Regions from separate parts of the Homo sapiens genome. Here region 2 is linked to region 1. The links come from fine-mapping of genetic effects on gene expression. Tissue or cell type: cerebellum. Region 1 holds a variant in brackets; the other region holds the start of a gene. All regions are shown on one strand. Distances are between the middles of the regions.

Region 1 (10,122 bases):
CAAGAGGTGCCCCAGGTTGTCACCTGTAAAGTGCTGTCCCCATTACTCCAAACATCAGTAAATGCCTGCTGCCCAGACGGCCCGTGAGAACGATGCTTCACAGGAATGAAGGAGCTAGGTTGTGTCCAGCTCAGACCACCCACTGAGCCCCCCTTGGAAGTTGGAAGCGCACTGGGAGCCAGCAGGGGAACGGGGATCCTCCCTGACCCTGGGCTTCCACCACATGGGGGTGGGAGCTGCGTTGGGTGGAATATGTCACCCCAAATCCATGCCCACCCAGAACCTGTGACTAGGGCTTTATTTGGAAATAGGGTCTTTGCAACTGTAATCAAGTTAAGATGAGGTCAGGCTGGATTGGGTTGGGCCCTAAGTCCAGTGACTGGGGCCCTGGTAAGAAGAGGAGAGGACACAGCTGCACACTTGGGAAGGAGGCCGCGGGACGACAGAGGCAGAAGTTGCAGCGATGTCTCTGAACCAAGGGACACCAAGGATTGCCAGCAGCCACCAGAAGCAAAATGGGGTGCGTGAAACGGACTCTCCCTCCAAGCCTCCAGAGGGAACCAGCTCTGCTGACCGCTTGACTGTGGACTTCTGCCTTCTAGAACTGCCAGAGGATGAGTTTTGAGGTGCCTAGTTGGTGATATTTGTTTTGGCAGCCCAGGACAGTGGAGCGTCCTTAGGCTGGGGGACTGGGGAGTACTAGGCGGCTGTCTGGGCTGGCTGTGGGGTCTCTGTCTCCAGCTGGGGGCTGATCCTGTTGCAAGAAGGGGCCAGACCCACTTCAGGTGGGGCAGAGGCTGGGGTCAGAGCTCTCCAGGGCTCCGGGGTGTCCAGGCTGCTGGCCCTTCGGCACCTGGCGGTAGAAAGGGGAGGCCTAGAGGCTGTCTGGTCCAAGCCACATGCGCATTCTGCACCCACCAGCAGCCAGCTTTGGTCTTGGAGCAGAACCAACGGTCCACAGTGGGGTCACCAACACCAAAGAACATCTGAGGATCCATGTGGGAACCACACTGCCCCAGGAATAAACGCACCAGCGTGTCACCCAGACTCTCCCTGTTGTGGGAATTCGGTCTTAGATGGGCAGAGGGACCAGAAGACCCTAGGGTTTCAGCAGGTGGAAAGGAAGGTGGCAGTAAGAACCACCAAGGGGACAGCGTGGGGATGGAGAGAGAGTGGCAAGGCCACAGGGCCGGAGTCAGCCACATGGGTTCCTGAGGCGGAGGCTCCAGGCAGGGGCCCGGTGACCACGAAGGGCCCGAAGGAGGAAACTGTTCGGCCACACAGGAAACCAGCTTGTCAGGAAGAGTGTGGATAAGAAGGGCAGTGGCAGGTGAGTCAGAGGCAGCTGGGGGTCAGGTGACACCCAGGTCTTGAAAAAGAGAAGAGCCACCCACCCTGGCGTCACTAGTCACTAACCTGGAGACAATTTCATGGCTAAGCAATGTCACTGAACACCAACACCAGACAAGACCACTGTGTGCCCGAGATGGGGCAAGATACACAGGATCGTGTCAGAGCATAGGCAGAACATGAGCATCGGCCAGACCTCAAGGGTCACCAAACCACCCCGTCCTGGCTAATTTGAATGACCGCTGCTGCTTGATCAATTTCAGCTTCAGCTGCATTTTGTTCTTCCTGCCTTCTAGATAAAAGTTATCAAGATACCCAGCTGTGGAGTCAGCCCTGCTGCCTTGAGCCTCTCCCAACTCCTCCTCCCACCATGCTCTCCCAACACGAGGAGACTTGCGGGTCCTTCCTAACATCCTCTCACAGCAACCAGTCAACAGACGTGGCTTGATTCCACTGCAGCGCGTTCCTGGGGTCTTTGGTTGGATGGTAATGGACGCTTTGGTTTTATTCTGAATGATAACGAAAGCCACTGAGTGGCTGCGAGCAGAGGAGAAATGGAAGTGATTTTGGAGACACTATCTGGGGGAGTAGCCAGGAGGCTCTGTCTGGGGGCGGAGGTGAAGGCAGCTGGGGAAGATCCTCTGTGGCTACTCGGGGTGGGGCGGGCAGGAGGAGAACATGCAGATGGCCTCTATGTGCCAGAAATGCTTTCCAGGAGCTTCTGACAGGAGAGGGCAGCTGCAGAGAGCTGGACGGGGGACAAGGCTGTTGCTCCACCAGCTCCAGGCAGCCTGGCGAGGCTGAGCACCCAGCCGAGGAGCAGAGAGGTGCCCACTGCCACCGCCACCCTAACACCCTCTGAGCAGAGGAGCCGGCACGCTCAGGATATCCTTTAAGACAAGAGTTGAAGGGAAAGACAGAATCAACCCGGCTCTGCAGGCGCCAAGGAGCCAGCACACATGGAGGCTGTGCAGTCCATTCCCCGGATGTCTGATGTGGGCGGCAGCACAACACGTTGCTTGGAGGGGCAGTGAGGTCATTCCCACAATTCTGAAGAAGGGTCAGTGGACTGTGTGCTCAGCAGGGAGGGCTGATGGGCCAGACTTGTGGATCACTGACAGCCGGGTCGGAGGGGGGGCTCACCGGGAGGGGTGTCCCCCACCACCCACTCCAGTTCACACTGCTTCTGACTTGTGCCCAGGAGAGCAAGCTAGCCTTCCAGGGGGCCAGAGTAACACTGGGCATCCTCTCGCTGCCTGCTAGGGTGAGACATATGGGACACGTGTGTAGGTGTCTGTCCTCCTTTGATTACTAGTGCTGGGTGGGGGGGGGGGTCCCCAGAGGTCCCCAGGGAGTGCAGAGGCAAAGGCTTAGCATCTGCCCTTGCTGCCTCTCTCCTGGACCAGACTGCTTCCCCTCCTTCTCCCAGGACCTGGCCGTACCTGGAGGGTGGAGCCCTCCGTTGAGCCTGCTTGCTTGAACTTCCCTTCCTCCCCTGCACTAGCAGGCCCCTCAGGCCTCATGGGGACACTCTTCCCCAACCCCCTACCTCACCCCCTCACCCCTCACCTAGAAGGAGGTCAGAAGAATTTGGTGCCATGGAAAGGAACATGGGGCATGGAGCACTTGAGGACACTCCCGGGACCCCCTCTGCAGGGGAAGGTGGAGCTCTGGGGCCAGAGGCTATGAGAGCACCAGCCAGCTCAGTGCACATTTGTCTGAGTCCGGAGTCCCAGTGCTGCTGTGAATGCGCTGAAGGGGTGAGGCAGGGATGGGGTGTTAGGGAGGAAAGAGAACTCTTTGTGAGTCACATTTCAGACGCCTCCATTCCCATTCATACATTAGGGTCTGTGGGGGACTGGGGCACATCAATATATTGTTAGAGAAAAAATGTATATGCAATATAAATGCATTAAGAAAAAAAAACACCCGAAGAAACGATTCTGACATGTTAATAGTGGTTCTATGTGGCAGTGGGATCGAGGATTTTTATACCGTACTTTCATATGTTTTCCAAATTTTCTACACCAAGCACGTGTTAGTTACGTAATTTAAAACTTATTTATTTTTAAACCAAATTCTCCAGCCAACTGTGCTTTTCCCCAGTTGCAGTAACTTTCCTTTCAGTCAGGTTTCTGGGTGAATCCAAAGAACAAGGCGGCCTCTCAAGCCCACATCATGTCACGTTCATATTTTCATTCTTCCTTCGTTGGGCCGGCTCTGCGGAGGCCGAGCGCTGGGGCTGGGGCGAGAACGGTGTCCCTGTCGTCAGGGAGTTTCCAGCTAGTGGCCTTCTCCCGCTTCTCAACCCATCCCCTCCCCTGTCCGCCGAGGTCGGGCTCTGACGGGAGCGGGCCGCCCTCCGTCTGATAGGTGCGGTCTGGGGAACTTGAGCTGCCCAGTCTCCCTCCTTCTTTCCCCTGCTGCAGACCCCAACTCTGAGCTTGGGGGACAGGGAGGCCGAAAGGGCCCTGTTAAACGCTGGGTGCTGGGAAGCCGCCCCCTCCAGGGAGCCCTCAGGACCTCAGGCCAGGGCTGGAAGCGAGAGGAGGCCGGAGCCCAGGGAAAACGGGCGACCGGGGGCGGCGCGCGTGTCAGTAAGGAGCCAGGCGGCGGGGACGGAAGCTCCGGGAGGGCGGCGGGCCGGGGCGGGTGTCAGAAGGCTCCGATTGGGCCTTCTGCGGCCCTGCTTCCCCCGCCCCCGAACCCCCCAAAAGCTGCGGGCAGCGGCAGGGCGCCTGCGACACAGGGGCGCGCCGCGCGGGACCTGAGGAAAAGCTACGGCCAAGCCCCGAGCACAGGCGCGCCGCCGCGCTGGCTCCGGGAACGCGGACGCACGGCGGGGCTGCCACAGCAACGCAGACAGGAGCGCGGCGACTGGCGGAACCGCGGAGAGGCGGGACTCAGGAGGCGTCTCGCGAGAGTTAGGCTTCGCGGGCTTCCGGCCGGTGCCGGCCGCGGGGGCCGACGGGGTTAGGCTTCCGGCGTGGGTTGTGTGGCCTCTCCCAGCTCCACGCGTTTCTGGGCGCCGGGCACTAGGCGAGCCGGCCGGGCTGGCGCGAGGCCGCAGGCGGGAAGAGTCCCCGGGGTCGGCCCCGAAGCGGCTCTGGAGGCAGTAGCCGGGGACGCCGAGGTCAGGGAGGAGGCGGATCCGAGCGCGGTCCCGCAGGGCCCTGTCCGTTCTTCCGCCTCGGCCGGTCCCGTCAGGCCGCCTTTAAATGCCCGGCGCCTCGCACCTGCTAACAAAACGAGCTCCTGCTGTTCCCCAGCTCCGTAAATGGTGCCCCTGGCCCTCCCCAGTTCTCAGGCAGAGCCTTGGCGGCCTCCCTGACCCCTAACACCCCGCATCCAGCCCGGCAGTACATCCTGTTGGCTGTGCCTTCGAAATTTCCCCAGACCTGACCTCTTCTCCCACCTCTGCCACCACCCTGCTCCGAGCCGTCTTTTCCCGCCGAGATGACTGTAGTAGCGTCTCAGCTGGGTCTCCCCGCTTCCACCTTCCCCTCCTGAGTCTCCTCAACACAGGAGCCAGAGCGATCTCGGAAAGTACAGGAGGTCATGCCCCAGTGTGGTTCCCCTTTCCTGGGTTTAAGTCAAGGTCCTCACCGTGCCTGCCGGCCTCCCGGGTCTCTGCGCGGTGGACTCTGGACCTCCCTGCCCCGTCCTGCCTCAGGGCCTTTGCACCTGCTGTTACCGCGGCCTGGAACGCTCCTCCCCTGAAACCCTGTGACTCCCACTTAGTGAGGCGACCACCTGTTGAAAACCGTGCCCCCTTCCTATACAGATGCTCCTGTCATATGGGGTTAGATTCCCCATCAACCCATCATAGGTTAAAGCATTGTAAGGCAATTTACGGTAGGTTTATCCGGATGTAACCCCATCTGTAAGCGGAGGAGTATACTGAATGTGTATGGCGTTTGTACCATGGCAAAGCCAAAATGTAAGTCAAACTCGAAGTCCAGGACGGTCTGTGGCCTGTACTCCCTTGCTTTCCCTCCCCGGCTCTTAGCGCCATCCAGCATCGTTGATAATGTAATTTGATGTGTATTGTCTGAAAGCACCAAGACGGCAGAGTTTCTCTCTTATCCAGATCACAGTGTGTGCTCAGTAAACACTAGACTGAGGGGGTGTATGAGAGGTCTTTTTTTCCTCTCTCCTTCCTCAGGAATGGGTGAAGATGAAGTCCTGTAAGGCAGGAGCTGGATCAAAGAAATATCCCGGGTCTTGTCTGTGTGCAGACTGTTGTTTGAGGACTCTGCTCCAGTTCTAGCAGCGATCGGTGGCTCCCTTGGGTGACTCTCCAGAAGGAAGGGTGCCAGCATGGACTGGTGTCTGCTTGCCAGATGCCCTGAACAGCTCATTCCTCAGGAGGCCAGGGGCGCCTCAGGAAGTGCTGTCAAATGCAATCACTCTCAGAACCCTCTGGGCTGAAAGATGTCATTGATTTATGCTGGCAGCCCCGCGCAGCACTCTGCTAGGTGTTGAATTGTCTGGAGAACACCTGGTATCACCCTCAAGGCCCCTTAGTCTGGTAGGAAGGAATGATGAGGAAGAGGCTGTGTGGAAGTCACAGAGAAGGAGGAGGGTGGGATCAGTTTCCAGGGTGGGGTCTCTGGAAGTCCTCTCAGGGGTTCTCAGGGGGGCATTTCTGCCTAGAGCAGCAGGTGTAAGGCGTGAGCCATGGACGAAGGGAAGGAGCCAGCCATCATTGATCGCCTCCTCTGTGCTGGATGTGGCTCTAGATGTCAAGCTCACATTTACACATTAGCCTTCCTTTACAGAGGAGGAAACAGGCTCAGAAAGCCCCTGACCCCGGTTACACCACTACTAAATGCAGGATTCAGATCTTCAGTTGAGCTCTTTGTGGCCGTGAAGCCTGTCCTCTTCCCAGGGCTCGATGCCACTTCCCAGGCTGGAAGCCAGACAAGCATCCGGGGCTGCCCGGAATTGCATGCAAATGTCC[G/A]GACAGCCGGCTTCCTCGTGGGCCCCGGCACTGGCAGAGGAACTCTTTGCCGGGCATGTGGCTTGGGCAGGCCAGGGCAGCCATCTGCCAGCCAGCCATGTGGGGAGGAGGCTGTAGGCCACCCCACAGCCAGATGCTTCTGGGCCGGTCCTGGGCTCCCAAAGGTAGTTCCTTCAGGAGATGGAGTCACCTGGCTCCTCTCTTCCCTTCCACCCAGTTCCAAAGTCAGGGGTTCTGGGGCTGTGTCAGCAAGGGGCCATTCTGGCACTGTCCTTCTGGCACAGAGCATTGTGGCCAGGGATGGACATCTGTTCTGCATTGACCCCCATGGCCAGGACATCTGTGGCCCCACGGAACTCAGTGACAAGGAGAGTCGGCAGCAGGGAAAGGCCACGCTCTGTAGTGTGTCTGCCAGGTGGCAGAGGATCCCTGACACAGCCCAGCTGGCATCTGCCCTTGCCACTGAGGCTTCCTGAGGGCAGTCCCCAAGGGTCCTGCCATGCCAGGGCTCCCCTTCTGCCAGGCAGTGGCTGCTTAAGCTGAGGGAGGGAGAAGCTGGGAGTTGGCCATGACTGATGGTACCAGGCCAGTGGGATCTGGAGCCCACAGATGGTGGAGGATGGGGCACAGCCCCCACCCCTTACCTGTGACGTGCCCTGCCGGCGGGCAGAGGCATCCGGTCTGCTCTGTAGAAGTTGGAGGTACAGACTGGCAGAGGGAGAAGCGGAAGAGATAGCATCATTTTACAGAAGGGAAAGCTGAGGCCCTGAGCCAGGGGGATATGCATGGATGCCCCGTGGGCTTTCTCGCGTTTACTCCTCCGCACAGGGCCCTGTTTTTCAATGGAGGAATTAGGGCTTGAAGGAAATGAAGTGAGGTTTCCAGGGTCCCCTGGCTAAGCCAGTTATTTGGCCCTGACCGGTGCAAATCTGAGAGGGGGACTAAGCAGGCCCTCAGGCCAGGGTCCGAGCTTGCTCACTCAGCCACAGCAGGGAAGAGTCAGCCTGAGGCAGCAGGCCCAGGATCGAGGGTGACCCTCCTCCCAGAAGCAAGATGTGGTGAGGTCCCAGATGGGCTGGGAAGGTGGCATGAGGGCTTGCTTCAAGGGAGCCTGCTGGCTGGCCTCCAGTATCCACCTGGAAACAGCCCCCCAGGTGTGCCCCTCGAGCTGCTAACCCCAATCTGGCCACCCCCCAACTCGCTCCTCAGCACTCCAGTGGTCAGGGTGTCCCCTTCCCTGGTCCCTCCTTGCCCCTCCTCTTAGCACCAGCAACCGGGGCCTCCAGCAGGCCAGAGATCTTCCCACAGCCTCCTGGGCTTCCTGCCCAAGGCAGGGGCTGATCTCTCAAGGGTGGGTGGGACTTCCGGCTGTGCCATCAGCAGTTCCTGGCTGTATCAGTTAGCTTTGGCTGTGTAACAAATCACCCCAAAGCCTAGAGGCTTCACACAACTACCATCTCTTATCCCTCACAGATCCCTGGGTTGCCTGACCAATTCTGGTGTGAGCTTCCCTGCTCAGGGGACAGCTCCCTGAGCCCAGAGCCCTGACTGCAGAGCTGCCGCCTGCAGCCCTGCATGCTGTTTCTCACCACACTGTGTCCCCGCCCTTCCAGCCCGTGGAGTCACACTTCGCCACCCAGCCCCCGAGGACACACTCATGGAACCCCCAGTCAGGCGTCCAGACTAAGCCACCAGGGTGGCTCCTCTCAGCCCCACTCCTGACCAAAGCTTCCTGCCTATCGAGCGTGGGGACCAACTGCAGGCACCTCCGTCTTCAATGCCACTCCGGAGGCAGAGGGGAGCCTCCACCTTCCCTGGCATTGTCACCATCAACCTTAACAATAGTTTGACTTGGTTAAGCTCCTCCAAGGGCCGGGGAGGTCGGGCTGGGGCCAGAAGGAGCAGCCTGTACCAGGTAACTGTGACAGCAGACAGCCAATGGGCAGAAGAGAGGTGTCAACGTCCCCCACTGTCGGGACCAGAGAAGGCGCCATGGGATGAGGGAGGGTCTGATCCCAAGGTAGGAGGAAGTATCCTGGGTCCCGGGGTCCCTCGAGCAATCTGCATTGTAAGGGAGGGTCCCTCTGGGGCCAGGAGATACATCAGGAAGTGGCGGAAAGACTGCATTTGGGGGCCAGATCTGGAGGGCCCTGGAAGCCAGGCTGAGTCGTCTGCCTTTGCGAGTGATGGGGAAGCGTTGACGGGCTTTGAGCCCGAGCCTGCCAGGAGCACAACGGAGCTTCAGGAAGCAGCTTTCCAGTAAGTGCCGGGAGCCTTCTTGGAAGCAGGCAGAGGATGAATTATAAATAAACAAACCAGAGCCCTGCAGCGGCGTGGGCCGGGTGGGAAGAGGGGAGAGACCGGAGGCAGGGCCTCACTTAGGTGCTAAGCAGCCCCTGGCCTGGCCCCCGCCAGCCCTCCCACCCTGCCTTGCACCCTGGCCTCGGGGACTCAGCGGCCTTCCTGCTCAGGGCATCGGCGGGGACCTCAGGCTTCTGGGGCCAACCTTGGCCAGGCTGCAGAGGGGAGGCCTAGTGTAGACCCCCACTGTGGGACTGGGAGGCCCCCCTGCCTCTCACAACTCCAAGGGTACAGGCCCAAGTCTCTCTCACACCAAAACAGGCCCCGTGGCCACTCATCCGTGTGGGAGGTGTCTCACCAAATGTTTGAAGGGGAAAAAAAATCCCATTTTCTAAGGTGTTTTTTTCCTTTCTATTTTTTGATTATTTTTCTAGATGACTTCATTTCTAAGAAGGGGGTAGTGGAGAGAAGGAGGACAGGGGGAGGGAGGACTTGGGCCCTGAGGAGGCCGCCGGGGACCAGAGCAGCGTTGGGGGAGGAGAGCGAGAGCCAGGCCCAGGGAAAGCCCAGGCCTCTTCAACCTGGGGAATGGGGGGCTTCTGTGACCCGAGCCCAGGTGTGTCCCGAACCCAGGTGCCTCGAGTGCCGGCTATGAACACATCTCCCTCCTGATCTCCCACGGGCCTGCTGGCCGCCTGTACTCCCACGAGGCCCTGTGGGGGAGGTCGGCTCTCCTCCAGCAGGAGGGGAAGGGTCTTCAGGCCTTCACCCCAGATCTCTGGCATGTGACGCGCCCACCCCCCACCTGTCCCAGGGACAGAGCTGAGAGCACTTCCCCATCCCACACACCACTTGGAACCGGCAGAACCCACTCTGGCCAGCTTAATGGAACCCAATACAAGATATTAGGAGGCTCATAGAACCTTCCGGAGAGCCTCGGCGGCCACACAGCCAAGAACAAGGGCCCAACCGTGCAGCCTCCCCCACCGGGCATGGACCCAGCAGCCCGCACCTGCTGTTCTGAAAGCCAGGGCCCCGCTGCCGTCCCCGTTGGTCAAGGGATTCTGGAGGCATCGGCTTCCTGGCATTGCTCACCTCTGAGGCTGAGGCTGAGGCTGGCAGGTGCGAGTGGAGCTGGCTCCTATGCCTGGGCTCGGGCTGCAAGGGAGGCAGGCCCAGGCACAGGATGGTGCTCAGAAGGTGGTGGCCACCCCAGCACTCCCTGAGCCCTTGAAAGACTTTTCCAACCCCAATACCCAGCAGTCTGCTGGGCTGGAGAGACGGGAAGGGAGGCTGTCTCCCTCTCTGGGGGCTGCCATTAACAAATGAGCATCAACTTGATGGCTGAAATCAACCGACATTTATTCTCTAACAGGTTTGGAGACCAGAATTCCAAAATCCTTCTGGTCCTCTGCGGGGACCCTGTCCCAGGCCGCTTTCCCAGCTTCCGTGGGTGCTGGGGACCTCGGCACTCCTTGGCCTGTGGATGCATCTCTCCCACTGTCCCA
Region 2 (10,122 bases), 23 kb before region 1:
CTGCAAACTCCTGTTGATTGGGATCAGTGAGTCAGCAGTTCAAGAGCACCCATTCCCCATCCTTGACCCCAGCACTGGGCTCAGCCCAAGAGAAGGAACAGGCAGGGTGGGGACAGAGACCACCCAGGGCCCTGTCCCCAGCCAGACTGGGCCAGTGGCCGCCTGGCTGGCTCAGAGGAGGAAGGTGGTCCTTGCTGTGGGGAAGCCCCTGGTGGGAGCAGGGAATCTGGGGTGGGAGCTCAGCTGTCGCAGGAGAATGGGGCACTGCCCCGGCCCATCAGCTCCTGGCTGCAGCTGCTGCAGGCTTCGCCACACTTGCATAGTGGGCAGAAGCGCGTAGTCCTGCGGTGAGGCAGGGCTGGCTTCTCCTCTGAAGATGGCTGGTGAGAAGGTCTTGAGCCTGGGGTCCGCAGCCCCACCTGCCCTGCCCACTCACTGGACATGGGTGGGCTGGGGCACTGTCCCCTCAGGGCTCCTCTCCTGGAGTCTTTTCCTTGCAGCTCCTGTGCTGGGCAGAGATAAAGTGGCCACATGGAGTGCGAAGGCCAGGGCTTGGCCCCAGCTCTGCCTTCGCTGGGCGACGGTGCGACCTTGGCTTCTCTGGGCTTCCCTGTGTTTCCTCTGTGGTGAGCGAGGACTAGAGCCCAGCTGTGCCTTTGAAAGGCAAATGCGTGAATGTGGACCCAGGACTTGGAAAGGGGACAAGTGCTTGTTTTTAAGACACAGTTAGGTTACCACCGCAGGGGTGTCATGTAGAGGACAGAGGGGAAGGCTCGGGTGGGGCGCCTCCCTCAGCAGAGCCGGGGAGCAGGGACCTGTCCCTTATCACACAGAGCTGGTGGGTGGGGCTGTCAGGAGTGACTCCAAGGCACAGGTGGGCTGAGGCTGTGACTCAGAGGCCCCGTGGGACTGGCTGCCGTCAGAGCAGCCCCACACCCAACCCTGTGGGTCCAGGGGCGCCTCACTTGGGGGGAAGGTCACGTGGCCTGACTGTGTCCTGAGGGCTGGGCTGCCAGAGGTCCCTGTGCCTTCTCCCCTGGTGCGGCCAGAAGCCCCTCTCCTCTGCCCAGGACACCCTGCGGATGCTGTGCCCTGCACACCCTGTGTGAGGCATAGAACCACAGAGAAAGGTGCACAGATTGCACCTGGACAGCCCAGTGAATGGTCACAAGACAAACACCCCATGAGATCAGCACCCAGATAGAGAAACAATATGGCCGGTACCCTGCGAGCTGCTGGAAACTCAGATGCAGGTGAAAATGGCGTTGCACATCTCACACACTAAAACCCCGGCCACTCACCTTACCGCAGACTGTCCCACATCCTAGACCAGCTGCCAATGCAATGAGTCTCCGAGGGGTACAGCCTGTCCTCCAGAGGGGCATGTACCTGACCCTTGGCTGAGGCACTGTGTCTATCCCAGGGCTGTGATCATCGAGGGCTCCTGCTTCTCTTCTGCGGGTGGGGGACCAGGGCCTCTCCCACCCCACCATACCCTCCCCTCCCAGCCTCACCCCTCCAGAGGCAGCATGGAACATCATGCGGGAAGGGCTGAGGCAAGTGGGGCAGAGAAGGGTGCCTCTGCCTAGCACCCCGCAGTGCTCTCAGGCCCTCCCAGCATTCTCCCAGCACCCACCCATTGCTCACCCTTCTTCCTGCTAAGGGTGGAGGTTCCAGATAAGCTCAAGGCATGGCCTGGAAGATGAGAGGCCGGGGAGATACGGCAGGATGAGCAAGGGGCACAGGCACCCACCAGGCTTAGGCACACCCCTGCATGAGCTCCCACCGTCCACTGAGTAAAGACTCTTGATGGGCACTGAGGTCCTCTTAATACCTCCCAACCTACCCGGCTAGCCTTCTTTTTTTAAAATTTTTTTTTTTGAGACAGGATCTTGCTGTGTTGCCCAGGCTGGAGTGCAGTGACGTGGTCTCGGCTCACTGCAGCGTCAACCTCTCGAGCTCAAACAATCCTCCCACTTCAGTCCCCAGAGTAGTTGGGACTGCAGGTGCACCCCACCATGCCTGGCTAATTTTTGTATTTTTGTAGAGATGAGATTTTGCCATGTTGTCCAGGCTGGTGTCAAACTCCTGGGCTCAAGAGATCCACCCACCTCGGCCTCCCAAAGTGCTGGGATTCAAGGCGTGAGCCCCTGCACCCGGTCTGTCTAGTCTTCTTATGCCTGGCCACCCTCTCCATACTGGCCACTAACCAGGGCCTCTCCTGGACACCTGCCCCCTTTGCCTTCTCTACACTCCCCCTCCCACTACCAACTAACCTCTGCAGGCCTCTCCGTGCCCTTCCACCAGGAGTGAGCTGAGCCGGCCAGTACCCACTGATGGTGGCATTTGCAGGAATTTCACAGGTCGATGGTTAAACACAGCCACTATTACATTTTAAACTAAGTAAACTTATAATTAAATAAATTATATTTTAAATGGGCAATAAATACTACAAACTCATCACTTTCTAATTATTTTCTTACATTGAACTATTGTCTATCTTTTTTTTTTTTGAGACACAGTATTGCTCTGTCATCCAGGCTGGAGTGCAGTGGTTCGATCTCGGCTCACTGCAACCTCTGCCTCCCAGGTTCAGGTGATTCTCCTGCCTCAGCCTCTCAAGTAGCTGGGATTACAGATGTGTGCCACCACACCTGGTTAATTTTTGTATTTTTGGTAGAGACGGGGTTTCACCATGTTGGCCAGGCTGGTCTCAAACTCCTGACCTCATGTGATCCAGCTTGGCCTTCCAAAGTGCTGGGATTACAGGCGTGAGCCACTGCGCCCAGCCTTGTCTATGCTTTTGAGTTTTATTCACATCTATTGCACCGTTATGGTGGGAGTAGTATAATAAGTACTATTGTGCTAGGCCGGGCGCTGTGGCTTGCACCTGTAGTCCCAAGACCAAGGCAAGAGGAGTTCAACCATCTCTACGAAAAAAACAAAAAAAATTAGCTGAAGTGTGGTGGTGCAGGAAGCATCGCTTGAGCCCAAGAGGTCGAGGCTGCAGTTAGCTGTGATTGCGCCACCGCACTCCAGCCTAGGCAACAGAGCAAGACCCTGTCTCAAAAATAAAATAACAGTGTGCTAGTGTGCATGGTTTCCCAATGAGTGAGGTCGTGTCACAGGCAGCCACAAATGTACGCGGCTGGGAATATTACGGGATCGCCTCCCTCACCCCAGCTGCATCTGGGGTGTGGGACTCAGGCAGGGCCGGGATCACTGGCTGTTCACAACACCATCCCCCCTCTTCCGACCTAGTAACCAGACACCCCGATGAGTTTGGGCAGGGCGGCCCTTCGTTTTCCTGCTCCCTCCCTCTCAGATACTTTCAGAACACTGGGGAGGCCGAGGGAATCCTAAATACGACCCTCCGCTTGCCCAGGGTCTTGTGAAGGAGAAACGCGGCATGGTGGCCCTCGCGTGTGTGTGCAGCGCCTGCAGGTGTCCCGCCCAGCGCCTCCTGCACAACAGTTGCAGGCTGGACCCGAGGGTCTCCTCTCCTGGGGCCCCACAGTGCCCAGAGGTCCCGCTAGCCCCAGACACCGCCCCAGGCTCCCCTCCCTTTCTGACGCCGTCCACTCCCTTCCTCTGCGGAAGGGGGACACGCTCCTCTGTGCCGAGGTGCCAGGCCGCTGAGATCTGCTGCCCTGGAGGAAAAGCCAGGCAGGGTCCCTGGCCTTGGGCGGCTAGGAAGGCTCCACGGCTGCTGGGGATAGAGACGCGGGGCCAGGCTAAGGGTTCCCGCCCCGTCTAAACAGCCTGCCCTGGGCAGGGCAGGGCTCCTCTCCCGCGCCCGCGCGCTCTCGGCTGGGCACGGTCCGGCTCCAGGCCTGACGGGCGCGGCCTCCCCACTGGACGCGTGCGGGAGGGCGGCGAGGCCAAAGCGCTGGGGCCAGGAGGGCACCCGCCTAGCGGCTCCCTACGGGAGTTGGGGCAGAAGACGCCGCGACCCCGCGCGGGTAATTTCTCCCGAGGCGCGTTCCAGCCCGTGGCGCTGCCGGCGCAGACCCCGCGTGGGGACCGGCGAGGCTAACCCCTCCTGCGGCCCGGGGTCGGCAGAGCACGCAAGGGGCCGCGGGCCGCGTGGGTTTGGGCGCGCCGTGGTGGGCAAGCGGGGCCAGCGGAGCGGGAACCCGCACACCCTCCGAGCGGAGCCGAGGACAGGCCCGTGCGGGCCGCGGGGTCCCTCTGGCGCCAGGAAGCGGCGGCCGAAGGAGACAACGAGAACGCAGCCCCGGCTCAGGGAGGCTTAAAAGCTGAGATGCTGAACGCAGACGGCGGGCGCTCGGGGGCTGGGGGGCGGGTAGAGGCCGCCATTTCTCAAAAAGGTCTCCATCGAGCCGGCCTCTGCTCCCGCCCGAGGGGCGGACGCCCGATCCCGGCACCCGGGACTGCCCGTGGGTCCCTGCTGGCTGGGGACCCCCAGCCCCCGGCTGCGCGCAGGGAAAGGCTGCAGAACGCAGAGACCAGAGAAGCCGGGGGCGGCGGGGAGGGGTCGGGGGGCCACGGCTGTAGCCCGGCCCCGCAGTCTCGGAGCCTCAGTTTCCTTCTCTGTACCACGGGAGCGTGGACGGAGGGATTTCCGAGGCTTTGACCGCTCTGATAGCCCCGGGGCGGGGCGGGGCGGGGCGGCTGCGCCAGCCCTGGTCCTGAGCCCCCAGCCCGGCGCCGGAACCCGGACCGCGATCTCGGGAGCCGAGCCCCGCGGTCCAGATGAAGGCGCGAGTGCGCGGGTGCCGGGTGGGGTGTCTGAGCGAGAGCGGAGCTTCTCAGGTGGACGCCCCCAGCCACCTCCGGGACCCTTCCTGCTGGCCTTTGGGCCTGAGAAGTGGGCGCGGCTGGACAGACGGGAAACAGCCCCCCACGCACAGGTGGACACCCGGGGATACCGGGCGCGCGCGGCGCCTGGCAAGGGGAAGCTGCTGGAGACGCGGGCGGCTGCTCCCGCGGGGCCCCCTTCCGAAGCGCCGCTGCGAACGTCCAGCCCCGGCGACGCCGCCTGCCCGCGATCGGGCCGGCGCCGCGGACAGGAAAGGCTCGATCAGCTAGGTCTGCCTCCGAGAAGTCCCCAGCGCCCCGCCCGCACGGGGTGGGGACTGACAGTCCCCCGGGGACGGGGCCGGGTCCACAGAGCCCGGGAGCTGGGGGAGGGGAGGCGCCGGGGGCCCCGACCCGTGGGAAGTCCCTGTACCCAGGCTGCCCGGCGGCTTCTCAATAGCACACGGACATCTAAGAAACGCGGGGCGGCCCGGTGACCCCCGCTCTGGACTTAGTGGCGCCGCGAGGCCCCACTCCGAGCCGTTGACCACCGGGCACTCGGGTGTTGACGACCTGGGTCCTTGGGCACCCAGCCCGGCTCCAAACGACCCCGGCCCAAGGGTGTTCAGTGCAGCCAGGAGGGCCGAACCGAATTCTATCTCCCGGACGCGGTGGTTTCCCGCCCGCCTGGAGCCCCGTCGGAGGTTCGGGGACACCACGCAGGTGGTCCATCCTCGAGTCCGGGGCCGGAGCCCGACTTCCTTCCCCCTGAGCTCTCGGAGCCTTCGGGGCAGCAGCGCCGGCCCAGGCGGGGGCGGGGGAGGAGGGGGCCGCGGCAGCTCCCAGAAGGGCGGGGGGGACGCGAGCGGAGGCAGCCCCGGTGGCGCGCTCGTGAGACCCCCGCCGCGCCGCGGGCCCGGGCCGCGGACAATTAAAGCGGGATTCCTCCCCCGCTGACGTCGGCGGCTCGAGGCCCCTCCCGCGGCGGCATAAAAGGCGCGGGCTCCGCAGCGCAGGCGGCAGTGGGGGCCTGATAGCGCGGCGGTGTGGACCGCGCGGCCGAAGAGCGCGGCGCCCAGAGCGCGGGCCGCTCGCGGAGCCACAGCCCGAGCCGGGTCCCAGCCGGAGCCGAGCCCCAGCCGAGCCGAGCCGGGCCCGGAGCGCCCGGTGCCCGCAGCCATGCCGGCCGGCCGCGCCGCGCGCACCTGTGCGCTGCTCGCCCTCTGCCTCCTGGGCGCCGGGGCCCAGGATTTCGGGCCGACGCGCTTCATCTGCACCTCGGTGCCCGTGGACGCCGACATGTGCGCCGCGTCCGTGGCCGCCGGCGGCGCCGAGGAGCTCCGGAGCAGCGTGCTGCAGCTCCGCGAGACGGTGCTGCAGCAGAAGGAGACCATCCTGAGCCAGAAGGAGACCATCCGCGAGCTGACCGCCAAGCTGGGCCGCTGCGAGAGCCAGAGCACGCTGGACCCCGGAGCCGGCGAGGCCCGGGCGGGCGGCGGCCGCAAGCAGCCCGGCTCGGGCAAGAACACCATGGGCGACCTGTCCCGGACACCGGCCGCCGAGACGCTCAGCCAACTCGGGCAAACTTTGCAATCGCTCAAAACCCGCCTGGAGAACCTCGAGGTCCGCGCGCGCCCTCGGCTCCGGTTCCCCCTCCGGCTCGCTCGCCCCTCTGCCCTCCCCCACCCCGTTCCCTACCCGGCCAGGCATCCCCCGCCCTCGCCTCAGCCGCGCGGGTGCCCGGCCGGTGCCTCCCCGCGCCTGCGAGGCCCCGCGGCGGCCACTCGCCCCAGCTCCCTGCCAGGCCGCCCCCGCAGTCGCCCAGAGGGGACCGCGCCGCGGGCCTTCCAGCACGGTCCCCGCGCCTCGCCTAACGGTGTGGTTTCCCCCGCCCTTGCACCCCGCAGCAGTACAGCCGCCTCAATTCCTCCAGCCAGACCAACAGCCTCAAGGATCTGCTGCAGAGCAAGATCGATGAGCTGGAGAGGCAGGTGCTGTCCCGGGTGAACACCCTGGAGGAGGGCAAGGGGGGCCCCAGGAACGACACCGAGGAGAGGGTCAAGATCGAGACCGCCCTGACCTCCCTGCACCAGCGGATCAGCGAGCTCGAGAAAGGTACTGGGGCCAGGGGGAGCCGTGCTGCCTGCCTGCACCTGCTTGCCCGACCCTGCCTCGGTCCCGATCCCTAACAGCCCAGCTCTGCACTGTGCAAGCCTCAAGCCGCTCCGCTACCCCCAACCCCTGCACCGCTTTCTCATTCCCCGCACCCCTTCCCAGGTTCTGGGCTTCTAGTCGGTGTTTCTATCAGGGCTGGGTGCCTTGGGCTGGGGCTGTCTCTGGGAAAGGGGATTGCATAGTGCCCCCTCCCCCATCCAGACACACTCACACACTCGCTGGATTTTTCAAGTCTGATTTGTTTAATCCTCAGTAACTTTGCACAGTGGCTGTCGCTGGCTCAAACCCTCCCTGCTTAAGAAAGCCTGTCTCTCCCTGGTCCCCAGCCTCAGCGTACAGCTGGGTGCAGGCTGGGGCTGGGCGCTCTCGTTCCCCGGGCCGCTGAGGCTGTTAAGCAGGTTTCTTCCCGGCTGCCATGCCCCCGGTGTCCTCTCAGGATCTCCAGCTCCTCCCCACTTCTGTCCTGAACCCCTACCCTGAGGTTTTCTTTTCTGAGTGACCCAAGTCCTGGCATCTTTCAAATCCCTGAGGTTTCTCAGTCACCAACTCAGGCCAGCCAGTCTATCACCCAGGGCGCCTGGATGAGCGCTGGAGGCTCTGTCTTGAAGTCGCAGAAATCAAACAAGGTTGTAAAAGGGGAGGGGGGGGGGTGCCCGGTGCGGAGCAAGGCCACGTGACCCTGCTCAGACCGCAAAATGTGCCGGACAGATTTAAACAGTGCCATCTTAAGGCTTGTTATGTAACTGAAAAACAGATCAGAAGGAAGGACCTCAGGAGGGAGGGAGAGGGAAGGAGCGGAGATTGGGGAATGAAAAACACCCGGAGAAAGGCCAGGGGCTGGGCCCCTCCCTATCCCCCACTGCAGGCCTCAATGGGTTGGGGTAGCCGCTGGGGTGCTGCACTGAGGGGGCCTGCCCTGCTCTGCTCCCTGCCAGTTGGTTTAGAGGAGGGGGTGGTTGCTGACCGGGCAGGATGTCTTCTAGAAATAATTTTTGGCCTGGGGAACTGGTTTCTTTCTGGGCTTCCTGGCAGGACCACGGCTGCTCACCCAGGGATTGACCAAGGGGTGTGTGTTCCTGGGCTCTGGGCCTGCTACTGTGCCCATTGCTGGCCAGGAATGTTTTGCCTGGAGTCAGTCACACCATACCCAGGGTGCCACAGTATATAGATGGGCTATGGGGGTTGGCGCTTACGGGAGAAGTGGCCGGTGGGGAGGGAGAAGGTGGGCCTTGTGGAAAGGGAGGCCACCAGGCCTGGAACCTGAGCTGTGAGGACACTTACTCACCTGAGAGTGTGGCGGCATCCTAGAGCAGTCACCTTGGGGAGCCCTGGCGCCCAGAGTACTCCCAGCTCCTTGCTGCCCTGCCCTCTCAGCAGAGCTCCAGGCAGAGTCCCTGCTCCAAGGAAGGGCCTTGGAGGTGGGGAGCTGCCCAGCCTCACACCCAAGAGGCATTGGTGGGTCAGAGGCACATCTGGCCTGGAGGGAAGTGTGTGGGCACCAGGGCCTGGCTGTCGGGTGGGGAGAGGCAGGAGCAGAGCCTGGGATTGAGCGAGGAGAGGCTCTGAGCCCCGCCCCATCCTGGAATCAGGTCGGTTACTCTCAGGGTAGCTAGCCTCGTTCCTCCTCTGCAGCCACCCCTGCTCCTTGGGTTGACTTGGCTTGGCGGCTGTCCCCATTCCCTTCTCATGCCCACCACGCAGCCCAGTGTTGATGCAGCAGCCCACCAGGCACTGCCCCCCACCCCCATCTCCCCAAGGATGCCAGCACATGGGCGTGACAGCAGGCCAGACCTGGAGCATGAAGAGCTTGGGTCAGCTCTTTACAGACTGGCCCTGTGCCTTGGGGCAAAGTACTTGACCTGGGAAGCTACCCGCTCTGCGTCTCCAGAATGGAGACCGGAGCCTGCCCTGGCCACGCATCACAGAGCTTGGTGGGGACCGAACTCAACTCAGACACCGATAAGCACTTCACGCAGGTGCAGATGTCAGGACTGTGTCTTCCGCAGGTCAGAAAGACAACCGCCCTGGAGACAAGTTCCAGCTCACATTCCCACTGCGGACCAACTATATGTATGCCAAGGTGAAGAAGAGCCTGCCAGAGATGTACGCCTTCACTGTCTGCATGTGGCTCAAGTCCAGCGCCACGCCAGGTGTGGGCACGCCCTTCTCCTACGCTGTGCCCGGCCAGGCCAACGAGCTGGTCCTCATTGAGTGGGGCAACAACCCCATGGAGATCCTCATCAATGACAAGGTAGAGCAGCCCCCGGGCTCACAGGGCGGCAGGGCGAGGCCCCAGGGCCCCAGCTCATGTTGCATGCGGAGACAGGGCTATGGTGGCCTCAGATGTTGATGGGGCCCCAAGGAAAGTGTTTGCCAGGTGGGACTGAGGGAGGGGGAGGGTGAAGACCAGGAGAAGTGGTAGGAGCCCCCTCACCTGTACTGGGAGAGCAGGGAGAGCTGGACCTTCCCGGATGCCTCCTGGGGTGGGTACGGGAGATGGCGGAGAACGAGCCATGGGGCCTGGCCCTGCCCGATGATGTGATCTGGACTCCTCCACCAGCTGGCCTTGGAACTGGCTTTGCCCCTCCATAGCAGGGACCCAGAGATGCTCTAGCGGGGTGAGGGGTCCTTAGAGATTTTTCCTGAGTCCAAGTCTATCCCACTCAGCCCCCTAACTCTCGGGAGGAGGACAGGTCTGTGTGATCCCTTGGAACAGGACAGCACAGGCAGCCTTTCCCTCTAGTGAACATTCTCCATCCTCCCCTGTTAGCTATGGAACTAGCTGCCAGCTTTCAAACTGTCTCAAGTCCAGGCCAGCAGTGGTAGTCAATGGCTAAAACCTGGGCTGGGAAGTGGATTCCACGCCCTTGTTCCTGTTGCTCTTCCCCACAAAGGGCTGTGCCATTCTGGGCCCCCTTTCCCCAAGCGGAAAGGGTGTGAAGTTTCTTTCCTCACTGTCTGCTGGACCGTCATCCTCCCGACCTGGAATGGCAGTGGGAGAGTGAAATTCCAGGTTGGAGGCTGGTCTGAGCTTTAAAAGGCATCGTGCTCCATGACATCTCTCAGATCCTCGGCAAAAGCTTGCCGTGTTGTAGAGTGAGAGGGTGTAACAGCTAGAGATGGGACATCGGAAGAGAGAGGAGAGGCCAGCAAGGAGGCTGCACAGATGTCGCACGGAGCCTTGAG

Alleles and levels. Alleles are on the strand shown, and positions count from the first base shown. SD is a standard deviation of normalised expression in the study named.
As copies of G replace A in region 1, the expression in cerebellum of the gene that starts at base 5,780 in region 2 goes up (moderate effect, 0.61 SD a copy in GTEx).

The links. PIP is the estimated chance that this variant, and not a neighbour inherited with it, causes the effect.
Region 2: NPTX1 starts here. The variant in region 1 is fine-mapped to the expression of NPTX1 in cerebellum (GTEx, PIP above 0.99). The same link has a PIP of 0.9 or more in cerebellar hemisphere.

Annotation. Positions count from the first base shown.
Region 1 is chr17:80,448,924-80,459,045 of GRCh38, reverse strand. No RefSeq gene overlaps it. Among named protein-coding and RNA genes, the nearest start is that of NPTX1, 23 kb to the left of the region's middle. RefSeq lists enhancers at 1,228-1,317, 3,800-4,629 and silencers at 1,803-2,097, 3,863-4,122, 4,383-4,592. The variant G/A (reference allele first, on the strand shown) is at 6,314.
Region 2 is chr17:80,472,265-80,482,386 of GRCh38, reverse strand. It overlaps NPTX1 (neuronal pentraxin 1), which reads left to right and starts at 5,780. Exons shown (of 5, transcript NM_002522.4): 1 at 5,780-6,384; 2 at 6,669-6,876; 3 at 8,943-9,187. The coding sequence starts at 5,941. RefSeq lists an enhancer at 6,793-7,326.